Homo sapiens: one gene and its partners. The protein of the gene in region 5 interacts with the protein of the main gene of each other region in a biochemical or structural test. Each region holds a gene or a part of one and is shown on either strand. Other genes may lie near its edges. The genes, in order: PTH1R, SLCO1C1, MAST2, CNKSR2, LNX1, MARCHF3 and GPRC6A.

Region 1 (3,500 bases), on a different chromosome or scaffold from region 5:
CATATTTTGACGTAAATGTGTGTCTTAGAGATCTTCATTTCAGTAAATATGAATCTATATTTTTAAATGCTGCATAGTATTCCAAAACCTGGGACTCATTAAGTAGTCCATAGGAATGTACATTTAGATCATTTCTGCATAATTTGTGTGTGTGTCTATATGTGCGTGATTCCAGATGGTGGCAGGGAAGCTCCTTGAAATGCCCTCTAGTGTCCCCATGTGACTATTTCCTAGTAGGATATTTCTAGATTTTGTCATTGCTGGGCCTGAGAATATACATATTTTTTATTTTAATAGCATGGCCAAATTGCCCTCTAAAAAGCTTGTGCTGCTTTGTACTTATACAACACCAAGACCAACCAGGAGGGCCTCTCTGCCCACACCCACTGTCTCATAGGATGTTAAGAGGATTCTTTGTGTTTCACCTTTGCTTGGATAGGTGAAAATGGTGTCTCTTGTCATTTTAATTTGCTGATTACCAGTGACTTCTGGGCTTTACAGTGAGAGCTTGCTCGGGGCCATTAACCATCATTCTATGGGTTATTTGTCTTTTTCGTATTGATTTGTTGAAGCTTTTTATATCACCTGCTCTTAAACACATTCACCTCAGCTCTTGAAACGGCTTATGGACAGAGCAGCAGGAGGGTGCCGAGCCCTCCGAGGAACTGGGGTTTTCTTCGGAATGTTTTAATGAGGCGTCAAGTAGCCTCCCTCAGATTCCTGTTGTGGGCCTTCTGGGGACACTCCCTGGTCCAGCCACCACATCAGGAAGGCAGCTATTTCAGAAGGAGAGTCCTCAGGAAAAAGAAAAGGTGGGGCGAGGGTTTTGCAGACCTCTGAAATTGTCTGCAAAATACGGTGTGATTGGGAGAAGGGCGCAAACTTTTGCTCAGGTTTGCAGAAACATCAGAGACCTTCAAACCCTTAAAAGCCCCAACTCTGGGGCCAGTCTTATGCCCGAGGTGAGACCTAGTGGGATCCCATTCTGCTGAGCAGGCGATGGCTTAGATTAGGCCATACTGTTCTTCTGGGCCTTGATTCCTCAACCCAAGTAGGGCCTGCTTATGAAGATCCACCAGGTCGTAGCAGCCAACTCCGCTATCCCAGGCTGCATCCCACTGCCTGCCCCGAAGGCGGCCACGCTGGCTGGCCAGGATGAGAGGCGTCACAGTGCCTCTTCCCCCCCAGCCCCTCCCAGCCCCAAACACAGGCAGCCTGTTCAGGAAAGCCTGGCGAAGGGGAGGAAAAGTCAGCACTTGTCAGCGGTGGCGGGGCAGGACGAGGAGCCTGCTCAGGCCAGCCGGACAGAGAGAGGGCAGCAGGGGTGGGGGAGCAGTCCCAGCCAGCTGGCACGGGAGACATCCAGGGGTGCCAGCATGGGTCCCAGTAGTAGAACCTGGAGGAGGGCTGTAGGAAGGCCAGGAGGTCATGAAGGGGTCTCCTGTTAGCCAGGGTTTTCTCCTTCTGGCTGTGCTGGAGGCATCAACGGCCTGGTTCCCAACACCAGAGCCCAACTGTCCTCTACCCAGTTACAGCTGGGGACAAGCCGCCATCACTGGCATCACCGGCACCTTTATGTCTACACACCTCTGCTCCTAAATCGGCTTCGGGGAGGCTGCCTTAGGGGATCTGCAAAGGGAGACTTGCTTAATGTAGCAGCTAAAATCCAGGATTATGGAAAGATGATACCGTGGCTGGTGCCAGGGTACCCGTGTGGCTGGGCACTTCCTCCTCTCTTTCCCTTCTTCCAAGGCTGCTGCTTCAGTGTCAAGCAGATCTTAGCTCCATCCCTGGCCCTCCTCTTTCTGTGACTCTTGGCCTCAGTGTCCCTGTCTGTAAAATGGGGATGTGGTAGAAGGTGCAGGAGGCATGGGTTTTAAAGCTCCTTGCTGACCATGGGGAGGATGTGCTACAGTGGAGGGTATTGAAGCCAAGCACCATGATGGCTGGGTTGGGGGAGTCAAGTCAGCCCTAATCAGGACCATAGGAGGAGTGTTGGGGGGATATGGGACAGCTGGTGCAGGGCTGGGTGGCCTGTAAGTGGTGGGTATGGACTAAGTGACCCCTGGCCACAGCCCAGCCCCAGTCCCTCAGTCCTCACCCCTGAGACCCAAGATCTGCAGATCCGCTGGATCTAAGGGGACGCAAGCCTGAGTCCTCTGCACCCTGGCGCTGAGCCAAGAAGACAGGAACTCCTCAAGGGAGAGAGGGTTGGAGGGGCGGGGAGAAGGGAGTAGCAGACAGGGGGCATGCCAGGCTGAGAAGAGATACAGCTGTCAGCATTTCCCCTTCATCCCCAGGAGATAAGGCCTCCTCAGTCAGGGCAGAGGCAGAGGAGGGGGTCCTTTTTCCTCCTAAGCTCAAGCTTGGGGCCTCTGGCAGTAACCTTGAATCCTAATGTAAGTCCAGAGTGGATCCAGAAATGCAAGGAGCCATTGGGATACTCTTCCATCCCAAAAGCTTGCCAGGAACACCTTATCTAGCAGGTCCTCCTGTAGTCCCTGCCCCCAGTCCACCCTGGGGCCCCATCTCCCATCTGCCCCTCACTGTCACCTGCTGGACTCAGCCATCTACCCAGATAATCTCCCCCAGCCACCTTGGGTCCCTGGCCTGGCTGGGAGCACCCATGTCACCAGGCAGCAGGGGTGCACATGGCGGGGATGTGACTTGCTGCTGCTGCTGCTGCTCACAGTATCAACAATAGCAACCAGCTTTTCCTGAGCTTCACCCCTGCACAGGCTTGTTGTGAAGTACTTCATTTAATCTTCACAGCAGCTTTTTTTTTTTTTTTTTTTTTTTTGAGATGGAGTTTCGCTCTTGTTGCCCAGGCTAGAGTGCAATGGCGCGATCTCGGCTCACTGGAACCTCCGCTCCCAGGTTTGAGCGATTCTGCTGCCTCGGCCTCCCGAGTAGCTGGGATTACAGGCGCACCACCACACCCAGCTAATTTTGTATTTTTCAGTAGAGACAAGGTTTCTCCATGTTGGTCAGGCTGGTCTCGAACTCCTGACCTCAGGTGATCCACCTGGTTTGGCCTCCCAAAGTGCTGGGATTACTGGTGTTAGCCACCGTGCCGGGCCAACAACAGCCCTATTATTACCCTGATTTTACAGGAAAACTGAGGCACACGGGTTAAGCAACTTTCTCAGACACGAAGCTAGTCAAGGGTGGAGGTGGGATTCACATTGTGGGGCTGGTGGCAGAATCTCCTTGAAGAGGAGGGCACAGCTGGAGGGAGGAGTGAACAGGAGTGGGGGCATTCCAGGCACGGAGCTGTGAGCTAACGTTTGGAGGGGTAGCGCACTTGGTGTGGGGTTGTCCTCCTCTTCTTGGGAAAGTGCTTCCTTAACTTTAACATGAGTTATTCTTGTTGCAATGGCTGTGCTAACAGATAAATAGGTCCTAAAGTTCAGGGAGGCCAGAGGTGGGGCCACCACCCCTATGGATGAATGAAGGAGTGTGGGAGTCATGCGTGCTGGAAGCACATATCTTTCCCTCTC
Region 2 (3,500 bases), on a different chromosome or scaffold from region 5:
ACTAGAGAACCAACCTGATTAATTTAGAAAAACAACATGATAGCAGAAATACAAACCTTGAATAATGCCTCTGTCTATTCTTAATGAAATGATGTACATGTGGTTTAAACTAATCCAACTTCAATTTTCCCATCTTAAAAACAGAAGTAATAACTACCTTTTAAACTTTTGTAAGGTTTAAGCAAGCTAACATACATGAAAGTGAATGCTACTTGCCTGACACAAGCTAAATGTGCCATTCATGGAAACAATTGTTTTCTTCCTCCTTTGAACATCTGAGGAACTGGAGTTACCTCTTTGCAATCCTCCATAGTTGCTGTTGTGCTTGAATCATGTAAAGTTTCAGGAAACAACGCCTGTCCTTCAACCCAGTGTTCCCCATAAAAGTTCTCTTTAGCTGAGTGTCTTGCAATTGGTCAGGAGAATATTTAGTGATGCCTTCAGGCCTCTCATCTTGTATGGGGTGGGTGATTACATTGCTTGGTTTCCAGAGTCTCTCTCAATACAAGGTTGAATCTTGTAGGAACTATATTGCCCTTGCCCATTGAGAGTCTTTCCCATCACTCTACCACTTCACATGAATTTCCAGAGGTAACTTTCTTCATCATTTCACCTATATATGCATTATTTGTTTTCTAAAAAAATTATCGAGTCTCCATCATGTGCCAGGAAGGCCTTCCCAACTGTATCTGCCTGGCCACCTGAAACTCTGCCTGTGGCTCAAAAGCAAACACTCCTGACACTATATTCTGTTTCCTGCCTATTCTGTGGCTTCTTGCTTACAGCCTGCTGTCCATCTCCCGTCCTACTCTTGCTTCCCTGCTTATCTGTCTTGTCTCTATGTTCCAACTTCCATCACCTTTATTAACCTGGTTTCATCTGCTGCTAAATGAGCGCCTGTTATAGTTTTGGCCATCTACAATGTTCAGGAAGATTGGTGAATGCAAAGTTCATAAATTACGGCTTCTGGGAGTTATCACAGCCACATTGTTAGACTCAGCTGAGTGTAGTGCTGCCTTAGTGAAAGTCAGTGATATGGATTAAGAATGTTAGTTGTAACAATGAAATGGAAGATGATTCTGGAGAGAGCAGAAGCCCAGTGCCATCTTTAACTGTCCCAGAAATCCTCACGGTAGAGGGACAGTTGTAGAGGACTTTATAGTTTGTGATTTCCAAAACACCTTAACTTTCATGATCTCATTATATCCTCAAAACACCTTTATGAGTTTAGTTTTGTTATCCTTGTTTAAAAGAAACTGCATGGATCTGGGGTTTGAACACAGGCGTGACTCAAAGTAGAACATTCTTTCTGCATCATAATTTCTAAGCCAAAAGTAAACACAAAGCAGACAACAAAAGCAAACTTTGAGATTCCCATTAAAAGTATTCCTACATAATCAAAGATTAAATATTTTAAACAAATAAAAGGTAACATTTTCATTGAGTGAGTACTAGCCTCTTCAAAGGAGTCACCTTGAAAGACTATAATTGTATTGCAGTAATGCTACTGTTGTTTAAAATATTCTAAGACTCTTATTTTGAATTTCTTTGTATATTTTTGAGAATATTCTTAACAAGGGCAAAGATTTAACCTTTAAGGAAAAGCTCTCATCTTTCAGCATAACTATCTTGAAAGGAAATCTCATTTGGGCATAAACATTCTGGCATATTTGTTAAAACTCGTCTTATAATTAAAATTCTAAATTACAAATCTACTGTCAGCACATCCTTCAGAAAAGATGTATCCCAATGATTCCTGCCCCTGATGATAAATTAAACTTTCAATACTATAAAGTATTTTTCTTTATAAAATATAAAATGTTTCCCATGGGTTTTTCCATGTTGCTTTATTCCAAACGCTGTCTTGACCTGAATATTCAATAGGAAAACTGAAGACAAGTCTTAGATATGATAATGGAAGAAATCTCTCTTCTGCAATAACAAGGACAACTCTGATGTGGACATAAGAATTTACAATCAAGAAACCTGGCAGGGTTCAGTTTCCAGGTTTGTCACTAGCAAGCAGTGTGAATTTGAGCATGTTACCCACCCACGTAGGGGCTGACTTCCTTGATCTGCCAAGTAAGAGGTTGGCATAGATTACTCCAATGTTCCCTCCAGCTCCAACCTTCTATAATCTCAGCCCTACAGTTTCCAGAGTTAAATGATTCTAGACTTTAAAAGGCAGTTTTATACTTTCAGATAATACAAACAGTCTCAGTTAACAATTAAAATTTTATGGAAGAGAATAGGATTAAACATTCCTATAGCACATCTCAGAAGGCCTAGTTCAGTACCCTTTCACACTATTTGGAGACATCTCAGAGGTCTTTGGTTTGTACTTTTGAGGTGACAAAATTCATCATACCAGTTCTACTAGATGAAGTATTACACTGATTAAGAAATTATGGTTGCCATCATTAATGACAATACTTCTCAGAGGCAGAGGCTCAAGTGATTAATTTATTTCTCCAAAATAAAGTACCATTTTTTAATTGACTAACTTACTGGAAATTTTGTTTCTTAGCTTGCTGTGTGACAGGAATTATTCCTGGTTCTGGACATATGGGAGTGAATACAAAAATAGTTCCTGCCTCTCTTGATTGTACAGTTCAGTGTATTTTTTGTTTGTTTAAGCTCCTCAGCTATCTTTATAAAAAATGGGAGGAAAGATATGAGGAATAAGCAAATAAATAAATTTGAAAATAAGGAGCAGAAAAAATGAAGTATGGAGGGCCAATGAATGGCACATATGGTGCAGATAGAAATGACATACCATTGCAAAAGTTCCTTTTGAGAAGAGTAGAGGAATATGAATAGCAAAAAAAAGGATAAAAGCAGAAGGATTAGGCCATTCAGGTGACAGAAAAAAAAGTGAGGGAGAGAGAATACTGGGAGAGATGAAGGATAAATATAAAAGCGAATGGCAGAGAACAAAAAAAAATGAAGGAGAAAAGAAAGAATGCAATCACAATTTTGTGAAATAACTCAAAAAAACCAATTTTGGGGGGGGGTGCAAATTTTGTCTCATTAATGTTTGTAACCATCTCCTATTCTCCCGGAGCTAGCACTTAGTAGGCTTCCAGTAAAATTTTATCAACAAATAAATGGGTAAGTCATTGAACTTACTTGTGAATTTGAGTAAGAAAGGATGCTATAAGATATGAAAGAGCACTATACACTGGGAGGATACACAGGAGAAAGGTTGAATGAACTGGGAATGCACTTGTTGGTTACACACATGCAAGAGGACATGTAACTCCTGCAAACACTGAAAGAGAATTAACTGATAACTGATTGGCTATTTTTCCTTTTACTGGACCATTAGTAATATCCATTCCACTCATACTTAGACAACAATTCTGAATGAAATTTGCACACACACAACACACACACACACCCCACCTGTGATGCATTGAAGTAGTGTCATAAATTGCTCTAAAAGTTTACTTTTCTACCTTGTTAGCTATTTTTATACACCTTTGCACAGAAGTATATTA
Region 3 (3,500 bases), on a different chromosome or scaffold from region 5:
CTACAGTGGAGTTGGGAAGCATGAGGCATGAGGACATGTAAATAGTAATTACAATACTGCAAGAAGTGTTGCAGTTGAGGTCAGTACACAGCGTAACGGGAACCTGGAAAAGGAAGTGCTTTAGTCTTCCCTGGAAGGAACATTCAGTGAATGCTCCCTGGGGGACGTGAGGCTTATTCAGCAAACTGAAGGATGAGTCTAAGTTTCCCAGATCGGGAGCATGGGAAGGAGCATTCAGTGGGGCACAGGGTGGGTTTGAAGAAGTGCTGAGGGGTAAGCCTGGAAGGTAGGCTGTGACAGGGTCATGGAGGGTGTCGGGTTCTCGGCTCTGGAGTTTTTCATTACCCTTACGGCCACTTGGAGACACCAGAAAGTTTAGGTAAGAATGTGACATGGCCGCATTTACTTTTTTCTTAAAAAATATTATTAAGGTATAATTTTCATACAATAAAATATATCCCTTTGATGGTACAGTTCATTGAGATTTAACAAATACACACTTGTAGAATCGTGGCCACAGCTGACATAGAGAATATTTCTGTCATATAAGTTCCCTTGTGCCCCTTTGAAGTCAGTCCTCTCTTCCTCCTGCTCCCAGACAATAACTTAACTGCTTTGTTTCACTAGGGATGGGTTTGCCTTTTGTACAGTTTCCTAGAAATGAAACCATGTTTCTGTGTGGTTTCTGTAGTATGTTCTGAATTCTTTCACTCAGCATGTTTGTAGAAATTCATACATGTTGTTGCATGTATCAGTAATTGGTTCCTATTTATTTCTGTGTAAATATTACATCAGATTTAGTCCTAAGAAAGATTACTTTGGCTGCAACATGGATAGTGAATTGGAAGAGAGGGCAGGATGAGCCAGGGACATCAGGGGAGAGGTACTCAAAGCAAATTCATGTGAGATGGGGTGGCCAGAACTCAGACAGTGAATGGTAGGATAATAGAGAGAAAGAGGTGGATTAGAGGGGTATTTATGAGAGAGACATTCTGACCAAATAGGAGCTAAGGAAGGATAAGAAGTTAAAAGGACTTCCAGGTCTGGCGTAGGTTATATCCAGATAGGTACAGTTCTCCAAAACAGTGAGGCCACAGGGAATGAGAACAGAGTTCAGGGCAGAGGCTATGCTGTGATAGAGCAGAGAGCCTCTCCCTCAGGAACATGAAGTCCTTGGCTAAGCAGGGGCTTGGAGTCAGACCTGGGCTGAATGCTGGTTTTCTGTTCCTTCCTACTACTGTGATTATGGACAAATCAGTGCATCCCTGAAAGCCTTGATTTCCTCAGTGAGGTCAAAGAGTTGCTAGAGGGTTTAACCCAGTGTGTGGCACTTAGTAGGCACTCAGTTATTATGTGCAGACAAGGATTGTGCTTTTCAATGGATTTCCAGCCTCTAGCACATAGGAGGTGCCCAGTAAATATTTGAAGGTATACATGCACCAGTAGGGCTTTGCCAAAGCTCTTGTGAGCCATAATTGAGTGTGTGCCAGGACAGCTGTGGACTGGGCATCTGAATACACCAGACAGTGCCACCTGGCTGATGGAAAGCATGGGACCAGATCAATAGGCTGAGCTCTCTTTAGAGTAAAACCTCTAGTTCTTACTGCCAGGAAGACAGCATATGCTTAGCATGTCCAATCTGGAGGTGACCTGTAAGACATCTTTGTCCCCATTCCTGTGATCCCTGAATCATGTTGTTTCTGAATATTCAGGGGTGGGAGTGTCCTATCACAGAGAAAGTCTTGTTCATCTCAGTCTACTATATGCTGTAAAACCAAAGATGCCAGCAGCTTTCGCTTATATCTGTCACCACTGACTATCTCTCTCCCTTGGTACAGGAGTTTGACCCTGAAGAGTTCTACCACCTTTTAGAAGCAGCTGAGGGCCACGCCAAAGAGGGACAAGGGATTAAATGTGACATTCCCCGCTACATCGTTAGCCAGCTGGGCCTCACCCGGGATCCCCTAGAAGGTGAGCATGCTGCCTAGTGGCTGCAAAGAGGCCCCACTGCTGCTGGCAAGCTCTAACAGCAGGGAAGCTGCTTGGAAAAGAGACTTAGCTTGGACATGGACACAACATGGCCCCGGGGGCCTCAGGATTTTAGGAGATACCCTGTGATCTCTGTGACAAAACAGTCTTTACTTTGGAACTGCTGTTCACATCTGCCTGATAGATCCCAACCTGGATTGCATTGGCCCGGCTGAGTTGCATTTAGAACCTCAGTTCCAAAGAGGTCAACAACAAAGGGCCACAATCACATTTGCAAAAATGGTCACCTCCTCTGCAACTTGCCTCTACTCTTGGCCACCTTACAGGTCTTCCTGTGTCTTTGGGGTAGTCCAACACAGGGCTTCAGAGGATACTGCCATTCTTCTGGGCTTCCTGCTGAACCCCTGCAGCAACCATGGGCTTCCAAGTCCCTGGTCTGTAGGTATCCTGCTCCTGCCTTCTGTGCTTCCCAGCCCCATCCAGTGAAGCAGTCTTGGCCAGCAGGATGGGAACTAGTAACCCAGTTTCAGGCCCTGTTTTCCAGGAAATGTCCCCAGTTTATAGAATTTGCCAGGCCCTGTGAATGGCAATGGACTTCTGGAAATGGGAGTAGCAGTAGGATTTGGCTTGTTTCCTGATCCAAAAGCTGGGACTACATTGGGTATAGTGCCATGGGACTGAATTCACATCCTAGGCTGATGCAAAAAGCATTAATGACTACCCTACATGCACCTGTTGTGTGATCTGAGGATACTGCTGAGATACCTGACATTGCCACGCACATTCTTCTCTTGTATCTTTGTTTCCAGAAATGGCCCAGTTGAGCAGCTGTGACAGTCCTGACACTCCAGAGACAGATGATTCTATTGAGGTAAAAACCCTGAGCTCCTACCCCATTCCTGGAGCCTGGGCCCTATGAAGCAAAGAGCTATGAATTCTCTTTAAGAGAATATCTGAGGAAGGGATGGGGGAGTTGGTGACAGCAAACACTGAGAAGTCATTCTACTCCCAGAAGAATGAGCAGGAGACTGCACTAGAGCTGACAGCTGAGAAGATGCTAGAGCCACAGCTTCTGCAAGGATATGGGCTCTGAGAAGCATGCCTGTCTCCTGCCTTTTCCCTTGTCTTCCAGGGCCATGGGGCATCTCTGCCATCTAAAAAGACACCCTCTGAAGAGGACTTCGAGACCATTAAGCTCATCAGCAATGGCGCCTATGGGTAAAGGCAGGGGTCAGGGTGTGGCCAGGACTGAAGCCGGGTCAGCCTTTGATCTCTTCCATGTGAGAGTGTATGCTGCCCAGTCCTCTGGGCAGATGCCTCGGGGTGGACCTTCTCACTCCCAGAAGCCTCCTGGGTGGGCAGGAGTTCAGATTCCTCTGACATCCGATCATTGTTCCTTTCCCAGACAAGATTCCCACGCCTCTTACTACCACGCATCCTCCATTCCCTGAGCTCTGGGGAAGCATTGAGCCGTGTCATCAGGACATGGTCTATCAAGAAGTTTAAGAGTT
Region 4 (4,275 bases), on a different chromosome or scaffold from region 5:
TGTCCTCTGAATGTAGGCTTGTCTAGATAATTTTCTAAATGTCTTTCCAAAATTCTGCATATACTTCTAAGTTTGGATAGTTAGAAAAATAAAGAAGCCTAAATACAGGCCATCTTAAATTTTACTTGTTCGCTATCACTAGCATTGAAATCAGCAGTTAAAAACGTCACAATATTTTAACTACTGTGGTTTCAGCTGTTTGTGTGTGTGTGTGTGGGGGGGAAGGGTGTCGTCAACTCATGCCGGTTAAAGAACGTGACATTTCTGCATCTTATAAAATTGGACTAGAGAAAATGGGTTACCATAGGAACTGGCAAAACCTATTGACATTACTGGAATGCTTATTTAAAAAGTTTCTTTTACTTAATGGACCTATTTAAGAATGATAGAGAAAACGCCTATAACGGTGGCAGAGAGTTAGCATCTACACTCTAGGAATATTTGTCTTTTAAAGTGAAGCCTCATTAGGCAAACTGTATTTTACTAACCGTTGCATAGTAGCCTGTGTATGGTTTTTGAAGAAAATGAGTTTTGAAAAATCATGTCTACAATTTGTCACTCATTTTAAATCCCATTGTTGCCCTTCGGTTCTTATTAATATATAAGAATATCAAACACAAAATGACTTCTCTAAAATAGGTACTTTAGAGGAGTTGGCCCAAAACCTGAAACAGAGCCCTTTAAAATGGTACTTGGGGCAGAACCTGTCTCAGGATCACCACAACCAGCAGCTGGCAGGTGACAGCCTCAACGCCTGACTTCCCAGGACCCGCTCATCACCCGGGGAAGATCCGACAGCACTAGCCCTCCTGCCTCATCATCGCTGCGCTTCTGGCAGGCGGAGCCCCGTTCTCGTCCACGGCAGTCCACACCTCCGTCTCTGCAGGCGTACGCGGGTCTCGGGAATCACCTCCGGAGCCCACTCAGCAGCGGGGAGGGCGAGGGCGAAAGCGAGAGCCAGGAAAGCCCGGGCTCTCGCTGTAAGCCCCGCGCTCAGTGGTGTCCCCCTCCCCTCGGTGGTGGGGCCGCGGATACCTCCTCAGCCGCCTCAGCTGTCGGAGTTCAACTGGTGGGCGGCCCGTCCCGCCGTGGCCGCCACCGCCGGGTCCCCTCAGAGGCCTCACAAAGCCATGCTCCAGCCGCCCGCACCTGATTGACCGACCCCGGGCTCTGGCTCTGCCTCGCGCCGCCACCGCCTCCGCCGCCGCGCACGCGCACTTCGCGCGCCTCTGTTCCCGGACGGCCCCCAGAGCGGGAACGCCAGGCTGCGAGCTGCTGGCACCTGTCTGCCTGCCAGACAGACCCTGGGCTCCGGCCTCGTGCCGGCACGCGCACGCGCACGCGCCTCGCGCGCCTGCCGTCGGCCCTGGGGGCGGGACCGCGCGGCAGCGAGCGGGCGGGGGGCTCGTGGCGCGCGCGCCCCGCACCCGAGGGCTGCGGAGAGATATTTTGGGTGGCAGGAGGCCCCTCGTCATTTCCGCCGGGCAGCTAGTCGTGCTCGGGGCTTCACTCCCGCGCGTGAGGCGAGCGGGCAAGTTGGCTGAGGGCGTGCGGCAGAGGCTGCTTCCCTCGGCGACGCGACCCCTCAGCAACTCAAGCTATGAACTGAAGCTCCCTAGGGACGGAGACCGGAGCGGAGCGGCGGAGGCAGCAGCAGCAGCAGCAGCAGCAGCAGCAGCAGCAGCCGCCGCCGCCGCCGCCTTAGCGGGAACTGAGCAGACCCGGCGCGGAGCCACGACTCCTGCACGTTTACCTCCCTGTCGCCGTTCCTGCCGGCGGTTGGCTAAAAGACGTTACAGCCGCGAGACCCGACACACAAAAGCCGCTTTCTCCGCGCCGCCCGCCCAGGGAGGCTGCGGCCAGCAAGGGACCCCACCTGAGAGCAGCTCGGGCTGCTGAGTTCGTTTTGTGTCTGAGCTCTGCGCTCTGCACGGAACCGACCCCGTACCCATGGCTCTGATAATGGAACCGGTGAGCAAATGGTCTCCGAGTCAAGTAGTGGACTGGATGAAAGGTAATGCCCGCTGCGGGGAGGGTGAGGCGGCACTGGGGCGCGGGGCACCAGTGCGAGGTTAGGAGGGGGCGCCCGCCGCGCCAGAGCCCGCCACCGCGGCTTCCACTGGCGGATCGTCGTACGCGTCGGGGCGGGGGTCCTCCAGGACTGGCAGGGGCCTGGGGTCCCCGGTCTCCTTTTGTCTCCAGCTAGAGGGGCGCGGAGCGGCCAGAGAGCTAGAGGGCAGCGGGCGCCACCCCGTTGGAGGCAGGAAGTCGGGAGGCAGAATACCGGCGCATCTTGCGTACTCCCCTCTCCCCTTACTGCCCCCGGGCCAGGAGGACGTGGCGACCCTTATCTCCCAGCTCAGGGTGGACTCCCCCAGGACCTGCTCCCCTGGTCGCCCTTTCCTGGCCCCTTTGTTCCTGGGAAAGCTGACGCCCCCTCGGCGGCCGCCCTTGCCAGGTGCCTTCCCCAGCGCCAACTCTCCCAAGCAACTTTTAGCCCACATAATGGGGTCAGGACGCGGCCGCCCCCATTCGGAGCCTGGCATCCCCCCACACCCAGATTTGGCTGAGGATGCCCAGGGTGGGGGTATGTGCTACTTTGAGGGTGAGGACATCATGCTTCCCCTGGGACAGCATCCTTGCTGCTGTCTCTGGGCTGCCTCCAGCGCATCCCCTCGCATCCTTTGCCTTCTCTGCTTTCTCCCTTTCAAGCCAGTCGAGGTTTTGGACCTCACGGCTTTTTATTAAGGGCTCAACGCCAGATGTAAGGTGATGCGCATTCAGGTACCTTCACATTTCTTCCATCTTGAAGGTTCCCCCTTTTGTCCCTGGCGATTTATAATAACCACAGTTATAGACACTCACCCTCCTAATCGCAAACGTGAGCTTTTTTTCTGATCCCTGGGCTTTCCTGTCTCACTACCTCCCTCTGTTGTCTGAGTTAAGGGGCTTGTAGAGGACTCCCCCACCCACCAACCCCTTGGATCCTCAGGCCCAACTCTTCCCTAAGATTTTGGGAATTGAAGAGGGGATGGATGGGATGGAATGGAATAAAGGATGCGTGGCCACACTTGGGAAATGTTAGCGCTTTGCTCGAGGTCATACCTGAGCAAACTCTAGGTAGATCAGTCAGGGACCAAAGGCTTATTATCGCTGAAAATGCCCGTTCCTACGATGAAGGAGCCCCTTCTTGGGCTTACTTAACAGTCAGACTTTCTAAGCTCCAGATAATTTAGAACGAAAGGTGAGGTGATTGGGAGGGATTGAGAGTGACAGGGAGAAACTGATTTTTTTTGCTCATTCTTTTCCCCAGCCTTTTTGGCCGCTTGCTTATTCTTGTGGATTTTTCTTTATTTTGCTTTCCTTTTATTCCCTTACTTGCCCCTTTATTCCTCATTTACTTTGCTTTTCTTTTCTAATATGTGGAAACTGCTTTGTAACTGCTAAGCAGTACAAATGTGAGTGAATTGAATTAAACCTAATACATTATTTATCGACTGCACCCCTGTGTGCAGTGCATTGTGCTAAGGTGCCATGGGGGATATAAAGATGACTAAGACAAAGTCCTGCAGTGGCTCATCTTTGCTGCTGCTTTTTCTCTTTATGTATTTGCTATTGAAATTCCAATATCTTAGATTCCCACCAATTATCCTCACTCTCCACCTTCTCCGTTTCTCAGTGATGGAAGAAAGAGCCAGAGTATATACAGGAAGCAACAATGCTTAAAACCCCGTTCTTTGAATTTGTCTAAAAGGTTACTTTAGTTTGAGTCTGTTGCTGAAATATTAAAAGACAAGCTATCTTGGCTCCATGGGAGTCTGATTACCTTCATAGACTACCTTTCGCAAATTCCCATGATGCCTGTAGTGAGTGCTGCATACTCAGTCTCCACCTCCCACCCTCCCAGTTATATTCTTGCAGTTTCCCCTCTCTCCATAGTTTAGGTCCACTGAAGCAAGTAGAATATATGATGCACCTATTCTGACACACATTATTAGTTGTCCAGTACACCAGTCCTTTAAAAATCTTTCCAGCCTAAAATGTGGCTTCTTTGAAGTTAGGTTAACATTGTTAGCTGTGATTTGAAAATTTTTTTTAAATGTAAGTCGAATACCTTGTTTTCATACCTGTTGGTGACGCATTTTAGAGCTATTTGAAAAGATCAATTGGGTAGCCAAGATAGTTTGTGTATCGTGTATACATATGACTGGAAGAGAATGAATGATATAATTACCTGTATATTTCAAATCCCAGACTACTTACTGCTGAAATTTC
Region 5 (3,500 bases):
TTGATGCCTAGCATTCCTTAACTTTTTTAATTGGCTAAAAGTTTTCTGTCCCACAAATCCTGCTTTGTCTTCTTTGGTATTTCTTTGAATTGTTTAAGCTCTTATTTTTAAAAAGCTACCTGGTTTCCTAAACCAAACAAGATTTTAGTAAGAATATAAAAACTGAAATAATCAAAGAGCCATATATGTCTCAGTTTTTTTAAATATGTTACTTTTTTGTGAGGATATTTCAGAAGTCAGATAGAATATAAGTTAAAACGGAAATAATTACAATTCCGACTAAGTCAGTTTGCACGTTTCCAGGAATTAAGACATATGACAGAGGGTTGCAGCAGAAATGTGACCAGATCCTCCCAGCTCTTTCATGATGAGGAGGTGGAAGGAATTCTAAAACCACAGTGCAGATGGAGGCTACCTTCTCCATAATTTGATGACTTAGAATATGACGTATTCTAGTTAATTCAACTAAAATTAGTTAATTGGATAAAAACTTCAATTAATTAATTAAGCTAATAAACTAGTTTTTCATTAATAAAGATGATCAGTTAAATTTAAACATTAAGCATTTACTAGCAAAAAGACATCACGGAGTCCTTATCCATAAAATGTTTTAGCAGGATATATCTGGTCTGTCTAGACTCCTTATTGTAGAGAAACAGGTAATTTATGGATTTATGAGGCTTGGCTGGCTGGAGAACCTGGAGGGGTGTATAACCTTGTAGGCTATGTAATTAACATAGTATAAAGCAGAGATGTTCCAAAATAAAAAATTTGAATATTGTTTCTCTATATATTACTCAAAAACTCAATTTGTAAGCTATTCCAACCAACATATAGATTGACGTAGAAAGAAAAGGGCATTCCCTACTTTCTGTTGCAAGAAGAATGAGCTACCTTTAAGAATTTTTTTTAGTTACAAGTGATGCCATGAAACCAGAACTCAGGAGAGATGACTGAAAGAAGCTCATCAGCATCACAACAGGATGCCAAGCCAAAGCTATAGGACTCTTAATTTGGACTAAACAAGGTTTGTGTTGCTTAAACACGCATCCAAATGAAGAGGTTAAGGCATTGCCTCTAATAGAAGCCACAGAGAGAAGTACAAATTGGGCTGAGTCACTTCATTTAAAGTGAGGCTGCAAACTGGTGGCCTGAAGAATGAATTCCACCCACAGATCCACAGTGTTTTAGAGTTTTCTGGATTTGAATGCCATATAACATGTGCTCTCTGGTTTGCCCCAATCCCCACCACTCCCTAATGTTACATGAGCTTCAAGTGTTTAAATTATCTTCCTGGGCCCTTCGGCAAACACAAACAAAAACTAAAAGTAGCGGGGAAATCACTCATTTCTAGGCAGACTGAAAAATTCAAAAGCCAGAAACCAGGCAAACTGCTTGCTTCATTTCAAAGTGAATAAAATAAGTCCTCAAACAAGATGACTCTTGGTAAAAACATGCCATTTATTTGGCTTAGGCTAGAAATCAGGTCCCTGTATGAGGTCTGCATGATCAGGTTTCAAAACTTTCCTGCACCTTCTTCTCTCCTGCTTGGATGGGAGACACCTGTTATCTCTCCAAGTCTTAAATATGGGACTTTGGGCTTTTAGTTTTACAAGTCAAAGTGTTTCTTTAAGTAAAAAAGTCCAGAGATGACACTTAGACATGTTAAAACAAGCAGCCTTCCCAAGAAATAGCCCCTTGCAGGAGCAGGCGACCTGCCCTAGAGGCCTCACCTTGGGAGTGTTGCTCCTCTCCCCTGGCCCTGGGGACCAGCTGCCATTGCTGTTCCAGCCGGCTTCCTGAAAGATGTCAGGGCTCCGCTGCCGAACCTGGCGGGACACGACGAGGTGAACACGTCTTTCACTGGCCTGGGCAAGAAGACACAGGCATTAGCCACTGTCAGTTTCCATCCACTGCATTCAGCACCAGGAGCTTACAAAAACATCACTTTGATTATACCATTTTTTTATGGCAAAACATGATTTCTAGTTTGTTGGGTTTTTTTGTTACTATCCATCTTGTAATTTGCCAAGAGCATGAGAGCTCTTTCCTTTATCCTTAAACCAGGTAGTAAATGTTGCTCCAAGGGAAAACTAGGGAAGGTTTGGTTCCTTCCAATCTTTGAAAAGGCATCATCAGATATTGCTAATTCATTTTTAATTAATGGTTGTACCACACACAAGCCATGCCCTAAGTTCTTCCCAGATAGAATTAGGTGCACTGTGTAAAGTAGCAGCCCAAAGCAAAGATCTAAGATCAATGGTACACAGTAAAGAAAAAGAGATGGAGTTAATGGCAGTAACTTGCCACTGCAGGAAGAGAAATCCTGAGCCTGACACTTGCAAATATTTGGGCATAGGAAAGGTTTAGCACTTTAGAAATATGGGGATGACTTCATACATTAATATGTACAACCTAATCAAAATCCTTTACCTTCAATTCACAATCACAAAGACATGGAATCAACTTAAGTGCCCATCAACTGATAGGTAGATAAAGAAAATGTGGTATGTATATACCATGGAATACTACTCAGCCACAAAAAAGAATGAAAAAATGTCTTTTGCAGCAACTTGGATGGAACTGGAGGCCATTATTTTAAGTGAAGTAACAGAGGAATGGAAAATCAAATACTGCATGTTCTCACTTGTAAGTGGGAGCTTAGCTCTGGAGATGCAGAGGCAGAGTAATATAATGGACTTTGGAGACTCAGAAAAGGGGAGGGTGAGTGGGGTGAGGGATGAAAAACTGCCTATTTGGTACAGTGTACACTATTCAGGTGACAGGTGCACTAAAATCTCAGACTTCACCACCATACAATGCATCCATGTAACCAAAAACCACGTGTATTCCTAAAGCTATTGAAATACAAAATGTTTAAAAAACTGCAAAAGAGTAATTTGCCTTGATTTCTTTATTTTTTATGGAACTACCAGTTACTCTGCTAATTCTCTCTGCTATGTACATTGATATTTGGACAGGCATTCAGAATAGCAAATATAGTACTTATTGGAAAGGTCCACTCCACATCATCGATATGGTTTGACTGTGTCCCCAGTCAAACTTCACCTTGAATTGTAGCTCCCATAATTCCCATATGTCATCGGAGGGACCTGGCAGGAGGTAACTGATTCATGGGGGTGGGTCTTTCCCATGCTGTTCTCGAGATAGTAAGTCTCACGAGATCTGATGATTTTATAAATGGGAGTTCCCCTGCACAGGCTCTCTTGTCTGCCACCATGTAAGACATCCCTTTGCTCTTCCTTCATCTTCCACCATGACTGAGAGGCCTCCCCAGCCATGTAAAACTGTGAGTTCATTAAACCTTTATAAATGACCCATTCTCGGGTATGTCTTTAATAGCAGCATGAGAGCAGACAAATACAATGATACATTTACAAATTGTCTTTCTGCCACAGATTAGTTTCACATGTGTCAGGTAGTATGGGCCATTATTCCAGAATTGCTGACCATTGAGATTTCAGAGCTGCAGGTCATTC
Region 6 (3,500 bases), on a different chromosome or scaffold from region 5:
TAATGCTAAGAACTTATCTGAGTCTTATGGTTAATTTAGACATTCTGTTCCCAGGCTAGTGAAGCCCCAAGCAAAACTATTATTGCTTCCTTTAGAAGTCTACGCTTCCAGCTGGGCGCGGTGGCTCATGCCTGTAATCCCAGCACTTTGGGAGGCTGAGGCGGGCGGATCACTTGAGGTCAGAAGTTCGAGACCAGCCTGGCCAACATGGCGAAACCCTGTCTCTACTAAAAATACAAAAATTAGCTGGGCATCGTGGTGCATGTCTGTAATACTAGCTATTTGGGAGGCCAAGGCAGGAGAATTGCTTGAACCTAGAAGGCAGAGTTGCACTGAGCCAAGATCGTGCCACTGTACTCCAGCCTTGGTGACAGAGTGAGACTCCATCTCAAAAAAAAAAAAGTCTACGCTTCCAAAGTTCATCCTGGTTCATTTTGAATCAGGCAACGAAGCTGTTCCAGTAGCTTCCATTGTGATGGGAGGAGGGTTAGAAATAAGAAATGAAGGAGTCTAAGCAGCACTATCTAACTCCTGGTCAACAGCACCACCCTGGGAAAGTCATTTGGCTTCTGTGAGGCTCAGTGTCCTCATCTGTCAAGTGGAAATAGTGGTAATGCCCATCCTGCCAAATTCCCCTGGTGTTATGAGATTTAAGTCAAAGTGTTTATGGGAAAGTACTTTGGAGAATAATATAAGTTCTTGCCATGTTTAGAGGTTTTCTAGTCTATAATTTTTTTTAGAAGAGTGCCTATGATGAAGGATGGATGAAGTGAGCTTAAATGCTGGGCTTTCAAAACCAATGTAAGGCCTTTCTGAAATCCTGCTTTGTAAAGCATACACTTATCTAACAAGAAAGAAACAGGGTGATAGGTGGCTGGAAAAGAAGGAAGAAAGGAAGAAAAGAAAGGTTATCTCAAGAAAAAATGGATGTGACCTCGTTTCATCTCCCATCTCAGGTGAAAGGAAGGTTTGGGTAGAAAAGGTACCTAGACTAGGCTCTTTCAGGAAAATGGTAACATACTTCATTCCAGAAATGTTTCTCACGGGCAGTGCTATGCATGCGTTTAGAATCCAAGGGCCCTGTGTTTAAACCCAAGATTTATCACCCTAATAACAGTGTAAATTCAAATAGGATACTTAACCTCTCTGTTCATCCTTCCTCTTGTACAAAAAAATACAGGAAATAATTGATAACCGCTAGGTCAATCGGTTATTGCAAAGAGTAAGTGAGATAACGTCTGAGAACATACATGCAAGCACCTAGCAGAGTGTTGGCCCCAGGCTCCTTCCTGCGGCTTCCCTGCTCCCCCAGCTTCCACCCTCCCCCTGCCCTTTATAGAATGCAAAGTAGCAGGAGGGAAAGAAGGCATCTCTCCCCCTTTGACTGGTGTGAAAAACGTGCTGTGGAGTCAGCTCAGCAATAGGTTACTGAATATAGAATAACTCCGTCCCAGATAAATGCTGTGCTGAGCGGCCCTGGCAAGAGCCGTAATTCAGAAGCTGACAGCACTTGGAAACTGCCCTGCGGCAGAAACCCATTGTAAACAAGCTGTCAAGCTTAAGGAGAATATGCTGTGAAAATGTCTTAGATAAACAAACACGGTGTCAGTCCAAGCCTGGCTCCTCAGAGGAGCCGTTCCTGGAAGGGCCTCCCTGGTACTGTGAAGAAGGACAAGCGCTCACGCTGCACGCCTCAGAGTGCCTTGGAGTTTCTCGCAGGCACACGTGGCCATGCAGGTCCAGCCTTGACACACCCTCATGGAGTCCCACCTTCTGGAACCTGCTGTGTTCCAGAAGCACACCTGGGCCCCAGGAGGCCAGGGCCTTGGTCAGCTCCACCCTAAGAGCTCAGGGAGAGGTGTCCTAGAAACATCACTGTCCATGTCACAAGTGATTTGAAACCCGTAGACAGACACAAAGAGAGCTGGCTGAGAACTGAGTCCACATTAAACATGAAGAAATTGTCGGTAATGGACTTGGTATCAGCCCCAGTTTGGAGTTTGGAGGAGAATTGAGGCACCATGTACAGGAAGTCTTTCCACTCACTGCATCACTGATGCAACCAGTGTCCAGCACAGAAGGGAATGAATGAGCGACCCGGTTCCTCAAAGTGTGACTCCCAGTCCCAAGGTTTGATTGTTTAAATTCTTCTTATAAAGGGGGAACTGCCAATGGAACGCTGTCCCAACAAGGCTCACTGTGGGGCTGCTTTAGACACATCCCCCACACGGCCTACAAGCATCCTGAGGGTATTCAGCGGTATTTCCCCATGACCAATTCACTCCTATACTCCTTTTCCCCAGTGCAGTCAGAGATAGATAGGTGAGCTGGGCACATTGCTGAGGAGGCCGTTTGCCAAGGCCTAGTCCCATCGATATCCCTAAGTCACACCACTTCCAGAGAGAAAGGGCAAAATCAAAATATGTAATCAGATATCCCAAAGCCTTCTGTGACTTTTTTTTTTTTTTTTTTGAGAGGGAGTTTCGCTCTTGTTGCCCAGGCTGCAGTGCAGTGGTGTGAGCCGAGATCACCGCAACCTCCGCCTCCCAGGTTCAAGCGATTCTCCTGCTTCAGCCTCCCAAGTAGCTGGGATTACAGGCATGTGCCACCACGCCCAGCTAATTTTGTATTTTTAGTAGAGACGGGGTTTCTCCATGTTGGTCAGGCAGTCTCAAACTCCCAACCTCAGGTGATCTGCCTGCCTCGGCCTCCCAAAGTGCTGGGATTACAGGCATGAGCCACTGCACCAGGCCGCCTGCTGTGACTTTATAGCACACCTTTGCCCCAGCCGCAGTCACCTCCCTAATGGGAAGAGTGGATGCTAACATTTTCTAACCCTTCTCATAATATTCATGCGATCACAACTCTTTGTACAGCAGACTTGCCCATGATAGGAGGTTAGTTAGATGAATAAACTAGAAACTTCAGGAAGCGCATCCCATAAGGAGCAGTATTTTTATAATAGTGGCCCTATACTCTCTTCCTCCTCTCTCCTAAACTCAAAAATTTAAGAAATATCTAAGTGAAATTCCTAACATTATTGTTGGAGCATCTTTTTATGTTTTCTTTTTCCTCGCTGCCTTATTCTTCTTCTAAATTAGACCTCCTTTCTTTCCAATTATATTGCATTGCAGGGATGCAGTGTCTTGGAGCATCTAGAGAAGTAGCATTAACCCAGGGCAATGCAAACCTGTGGTCTCCTTGGCGTTGTGCTCAACTTGCCTTTATTTTCCCTGACAAAGAAGCATCTTCTTATGTTGCTTTCTTCTTATTAATTGAATTTGCCTGCAGACTGTAGTGATTAACCACAATTAAAATAGATTAATGTATAATAAGATCTCATCTGTTTGTCTACACAAGTGGGCTGAATTTTTTAATTTCCTGGCCATGGAACCAGGAGACCTGCTAAGTCGCTGACTCCCTGTGTTCCTTGAAGCAGTGCGTCTCAGGCTTGAATGCACATGCGGATCACCTGGGGGTCTTGTTAAAATGCACTCTCT
Region 7 (3,250 bases), on a different chromosome or scaffold from region 5:
CTATATACATTATAATCATAGACTTCCTCACACTGATTGAAGATGTTGATATGTGCCTGTTTCTCCTTGGATTTTGAGCTCCTTGAGATCATCAAAGACACCTTGCTGCTTTTGTACCTTGTTATTTAGCATATCAACTGGTTCATAGTAATTGCTCAAGTGCTTGTTCAACTACACTGAACAGTGGAAGAAAAGTAAAAATGCTCAAGAGAGGAGAATCCAAAGAGATTTGAGAAGAGGGTGTCGGGAATGGAGTAAGGATGACACATTACGGGACAACTTTGATTAGAAGAGAAGTCTTTAACGATGTGCCTAAGAGGAAGCAGGTAAAGATGGAGACCAATGAAAAAGGTAGGAAATGAAGGGAGCTTCAGGCTGAAGGCTCAATTCTATTTGTTAAATAGGTGATTGAACAGAGTGACTGTTCAACTAAAACTTGGTAAAGATGGTGGCAAGGAAATATATATGACATATTTGCTGGGAAAGTAAATTTATATCTTAGATGCAAAGACCCTGGAAACATTTTATTCTGGAATGTGGCATCTCCTAAGGCTTATTCATATACTTGACATTCTTTTTCGAGGCAAAGTTTTAGATACACTTGTGGCATTTTCCCTGCATATGTGTGCAAATGCTTGTGCCTGAAGATCTTTGCTTTTCTGCCAGGTTGCAGACTTGCCACTAGAGCTGGGATTGGTCATTGTGACATTGCCGCTCATGGAGTCCAGTGAAGCAGGACTCAGGGCAATGCTGCTCACACTATGGGAAGAATAACTGTAGATCATCTTGAGAAAGGCAGACTTTGTGTTAATCTCTTGCTTACAAATAATAACATAGCATTTGGGGATGAATGTGCAATACAGGATTCCATAGTTAGATATTAATATGACAATAATCTCCACAGCTGGTACATATTTGCCAAATGTGGTAGCATAGATAGGGATGAATGTGATCCAAGCTATGAAGTAAATGAGCATGCCAAATGTAATGAATTTGGCTTCATTGTAATTCTCATATTTGCCTTTGAAAGCAAATATGAAGCAAATGAAGGCCAGGATGGCAATGTAGCCCAGCATGGTGCCAAATGCAAGTATGGATCCCTCCTCACACTCCAGGATGATGACTCTGGGCAAGGAGACATTCACCTCTACAGTAGGTGCTGCAAAGATTAGCCAGAGTGTGCAAATGACAACCTGGATGCCCGTGCAAGTGAAGATAATAAGGATCGGTCTATAGAGGCACTTCAGAAATTTCTGTAATTTGGGATCAAAGCTGAAGGCTAGCAAAATTTTCAGAGACTTCGTCAAAATGCAGGAGATGCAAAGAGTAAAGCTCACTCCAAACATTGTCTGCCTGGTTTTACATGTGAAGTCTTGTGGTTCTCCAATGAAAAAGCTCGTGCTGGCAAAATTGAGGAAATGACAGAGAAGGATCACATAGCAGACTCTTAATCCCCCGGATGATTTCACAACAGGTGTGTTCAGGTTTCTTGTAAATATTATGCCAACAACCAGAACAAATATGATTCCCAGTAGGGAGAGAATCAGGAGTAGGATGGCCAAGGAGTCATTCCAGTTGAGATATTCCACTTCCTTTTCAAAGCACATAGTGCTCCTAACAGGGGCCCAGTGAGTTTTGTTGTTGCATAAAAGGCAGTGAGGCATATCTAAAAGACAGAGGAGACGCAGTTACATTGTCAACATTTAAACTAGGTGATAGTCCACAATACTACAAATGAGATTCGTCTTCTTTAATAGTTCTGACTAGAGAATAGATATAGATGATTGTTACATTGGTTACTTATTAAAATAAAACATGCTAAAACTCAAAGAAAGTGAGAGAGAAAGGGTAAAAGTGAGGAAAAAGGAAAAGAAAGAGAAAATAGAGAAAGAAAAAAAGCCAGCTGGATTGTGAATGTTTAGGAAATGAATATACTCAGAATAGATGCTAGCTTCTTATGCATTTGCTATTATAGATGATGGTTCCAGCACTCTTAAGAATAAGGTTTTGGAATCAGACGTAGCTTTTCTTATCTCTTCCACTTATAATTCCTGTAAACTTGAACAAACTAACTGAACTTTCTGAGCCTATTTCAGAATCTCCCATATCTCAAAAAATAATAAAATGAAAAGACTCTGCCGTATTGTGATGCCGTACTTAATGAGATAATAAATGTAAAATGCTTCACACAGACCATTACACATAGTAGACCCTCAATGTATGGGAGTTGCTATCGTGAATAAGGGTGCAGGTCTTTCAAAAGCAGAGGCAATATGGCTAGGTCACTCTGAAAGCTTGAAGTCTCTTTCTAAAAGTGAGATAATGCAAAATTGTAATCGATGGCAATTGATGAAGAATTAAAGTTTATTTTTTCTCCAAGTAGTGGGTAAATCAGAGCCTCTCACACTGTAAGTGTTAACTTTGAAAAGTATTTATGCTTATTCTGGCTGCAGGGCAGCACAAATACTTGATTTTAGAGTTTTGTCTCTAGAAGTGATATTACATTTGCTCCCCATTCCAGCCACCCAAAGTTGGTGAGTCTCAGCTGCAATCAAAGGGCCTCTGTCAGGGCATTCATCTGATGACACCCCACAGCCTGTACAACTCTTTAAAATTTTGTGTTCTCTTCTTTATTAACCTCAAAGTAAGGTTGTATTTCTGTTTATAAACTTCATGACCCTTCCAGCCTCCTCCTCTTTCCGAACTCTATTCCCCTAAAAAATCTGTTCTTTTCTGTTTGCCCTGTAACCACAGTTGCTAGTGTCTGTCATTTCATTCGTCCAGTGGACATTTAATGGCCTCATCTAGGTATGGGAGCTGTGTGTTAGAGAGATAGAGAGGAACAGCAGATGGTATCCTTTTAGGCTTTCCTAACTCCTAGCTTATCCTCCAAGTTGTCTTCAGTCTTCTACATTTCTCCATTTGTTCTTGGAAGCGACTTACCCTGTTACCAAAAGAAAACCCAGATACAGCCTTTAAAGGGTCCCGTACGTCTTTATGGAAAATAAATGTTACATACTCCTTGGTGTTTTTATTTCTCTCACTTGGAAGGTAGTTGCTAGTTACCATGTTGCCTGAAAAACTCCCTCGCTAATTATCTAATTTTTTAGGCAGTGGTATAGCATTTTTATTTATTGATAATTTAAATGCTCAATTCCACTAATATAAACATTATTAAACATACCAAGGAACGGGAAAATTTTAAATGTGAGATAATAAAATGCAGATACATATAAAGTTTTGATACTCT

What was found.
Region 1: the proteins of LNX1 (region 5) and PTH1R interact in a test that uses a peptide from one of them, tested with the Homo sapiens proteins (one large-scale study listed by IntAct).
Region 2: the proteins of LNX1 (region 5) and SLCO1C1 interact in a test that uses a peptide from one of them, tested with the Homo sapiens proteins (one large-scale study listed by IntAct).
Region 3: the proteins of LNX1 (region 5) and MAST2 interact in a test that uses a peptide from one of them, tested with the Homo sapiens proteins (one large-scale study listed by IntAct).
Region 4: the proteins of LNX1 (region 5) and CNKSR2 interact in a test that uses a peptide from one of them, tested with the Homo sapiens proteins (one large-scale study listed by IntAct).
Region 6: the proteins of LNX1 (region 5) and MARCHF3 interact in a test that uses a peptide from one of them, tested with the Homo sapiens proteins (one large-scale study listed by IntAct).
Region 7: the proteins of LNX1 (region 5) and GPRC6A interact in a test that uses a peptide from one of them, tested with the Homo sapiens proteins (one large-scale study listed by IntAct).

Annotation. Positions count from the first base shown.
Region 1 is NC_000003.12:46,887,721-46,891,220, forward strand, and holds part of PTH1R (parathyroid hormone/parathyroid hormone-related peptide receptor precursor), read left to right. Parts: intron 1-3,500.
Region 2 is NC_000012.12:20,733,332-20,736,831, forward strand, and holds part of SLCO1C1 (solute carrier organic anion transporter family member 1C1), read left to right. Parts: intron 1-3,500. UniProt on the Homo sapiens protein: Mediates the Na(+)-independent high affinity transport of organic anions such as the thyroid hormones L-thyroxine (T4), L-thyroxine sulfate (T4S), and 3,3',5'-triiodo-L-thyronine (reverse T3, rT3) at the plasma membrane.
Region 3 is NC_000001.11:46,020,112-46,023,611, forward strand, and holds part of MAST2 (microtubule-associated serine/threonine-protein kinase 2), read left to right. Parts: intron 1-1,838; coding exon 1,839-1,971; intron 1,972-2,798; coding exon 2,799-2,860; intron 2,861-3,121; coding exon 3,122-3,207; intron 3,208-3,500. UniProt on the Homo sapiens protein: Appears to link the dystrophin/utrophin network with microtubule filaments via the syntrophins. Phosphorylation of DMD or UTRN may modulate their affinities for associated proteins. Functions in a multi-protein complex in spermatid maturation.
Region 4 is NC_000023.11:21,372,948-21,377,222, forward strand, and holds the start of CNKSR2 (connector enhancer of kinase suppressor of ras 2), read left to right. Parts: upstream 1-1,475; 5' UTR 1,476-1,950; coding exon 1,951-2,014; intron 2,015-4,275. Other genes in the region: uncharacterized protein LOC105373146, read right to left, coding at 1,036-1,475.
Region 5 is NC_000004.12:53,479,987-53,483,486, forward strand, and holds part of LNX1 (E3 ubiquitin-protein ligase LNX), read right to left. Parts: intron 1,869-3,500; coding exon 1,734-1,868; intron 1-1,733.
Region 6 is NC_000005.10:126,873,559-126,877,058, reverse strand, and holds part of MARCHF3 (E3 ubiquitin-protein ligase MARCHF3), read left to right. Parts: intron 1-3,500. UniProt on the Homo sapiens protein: E3 ubiquitin-protein ligase which may be involved in endosomal trafficking. E3 ubiquitin ligases accept ubiquitin from an E2 ubiquitin-conjugating enzyme in the form of a thioester and then directly transfer the ubiquitin to targeted substrates.
Region 7 is NC_000006.12:116,791,585-116,794,834, forward strand, and holds the end of GPRC6A (G-protein coupled receptor family C group 6 member A isoform 1 precursor), read right to left. Parts: intron 2,945-3,250; coding exon of another isoform or gene 2,940-2,944; exon of another isoform or gene 2,632-2,939; intron 1,667-2,631; coding exon 558-1,666; 3' UTR 501-557; downstream 1-500. UniProt on the Homo sapiens protein: Receptor activated by multiple ligands, including osteocalcin (BGLAP), basic amino acids, and various cations. Activated by amino acids with a preference for basic amino acids such as L-Lys, L-Arg and L-ornithine but also by small and polar amino acids.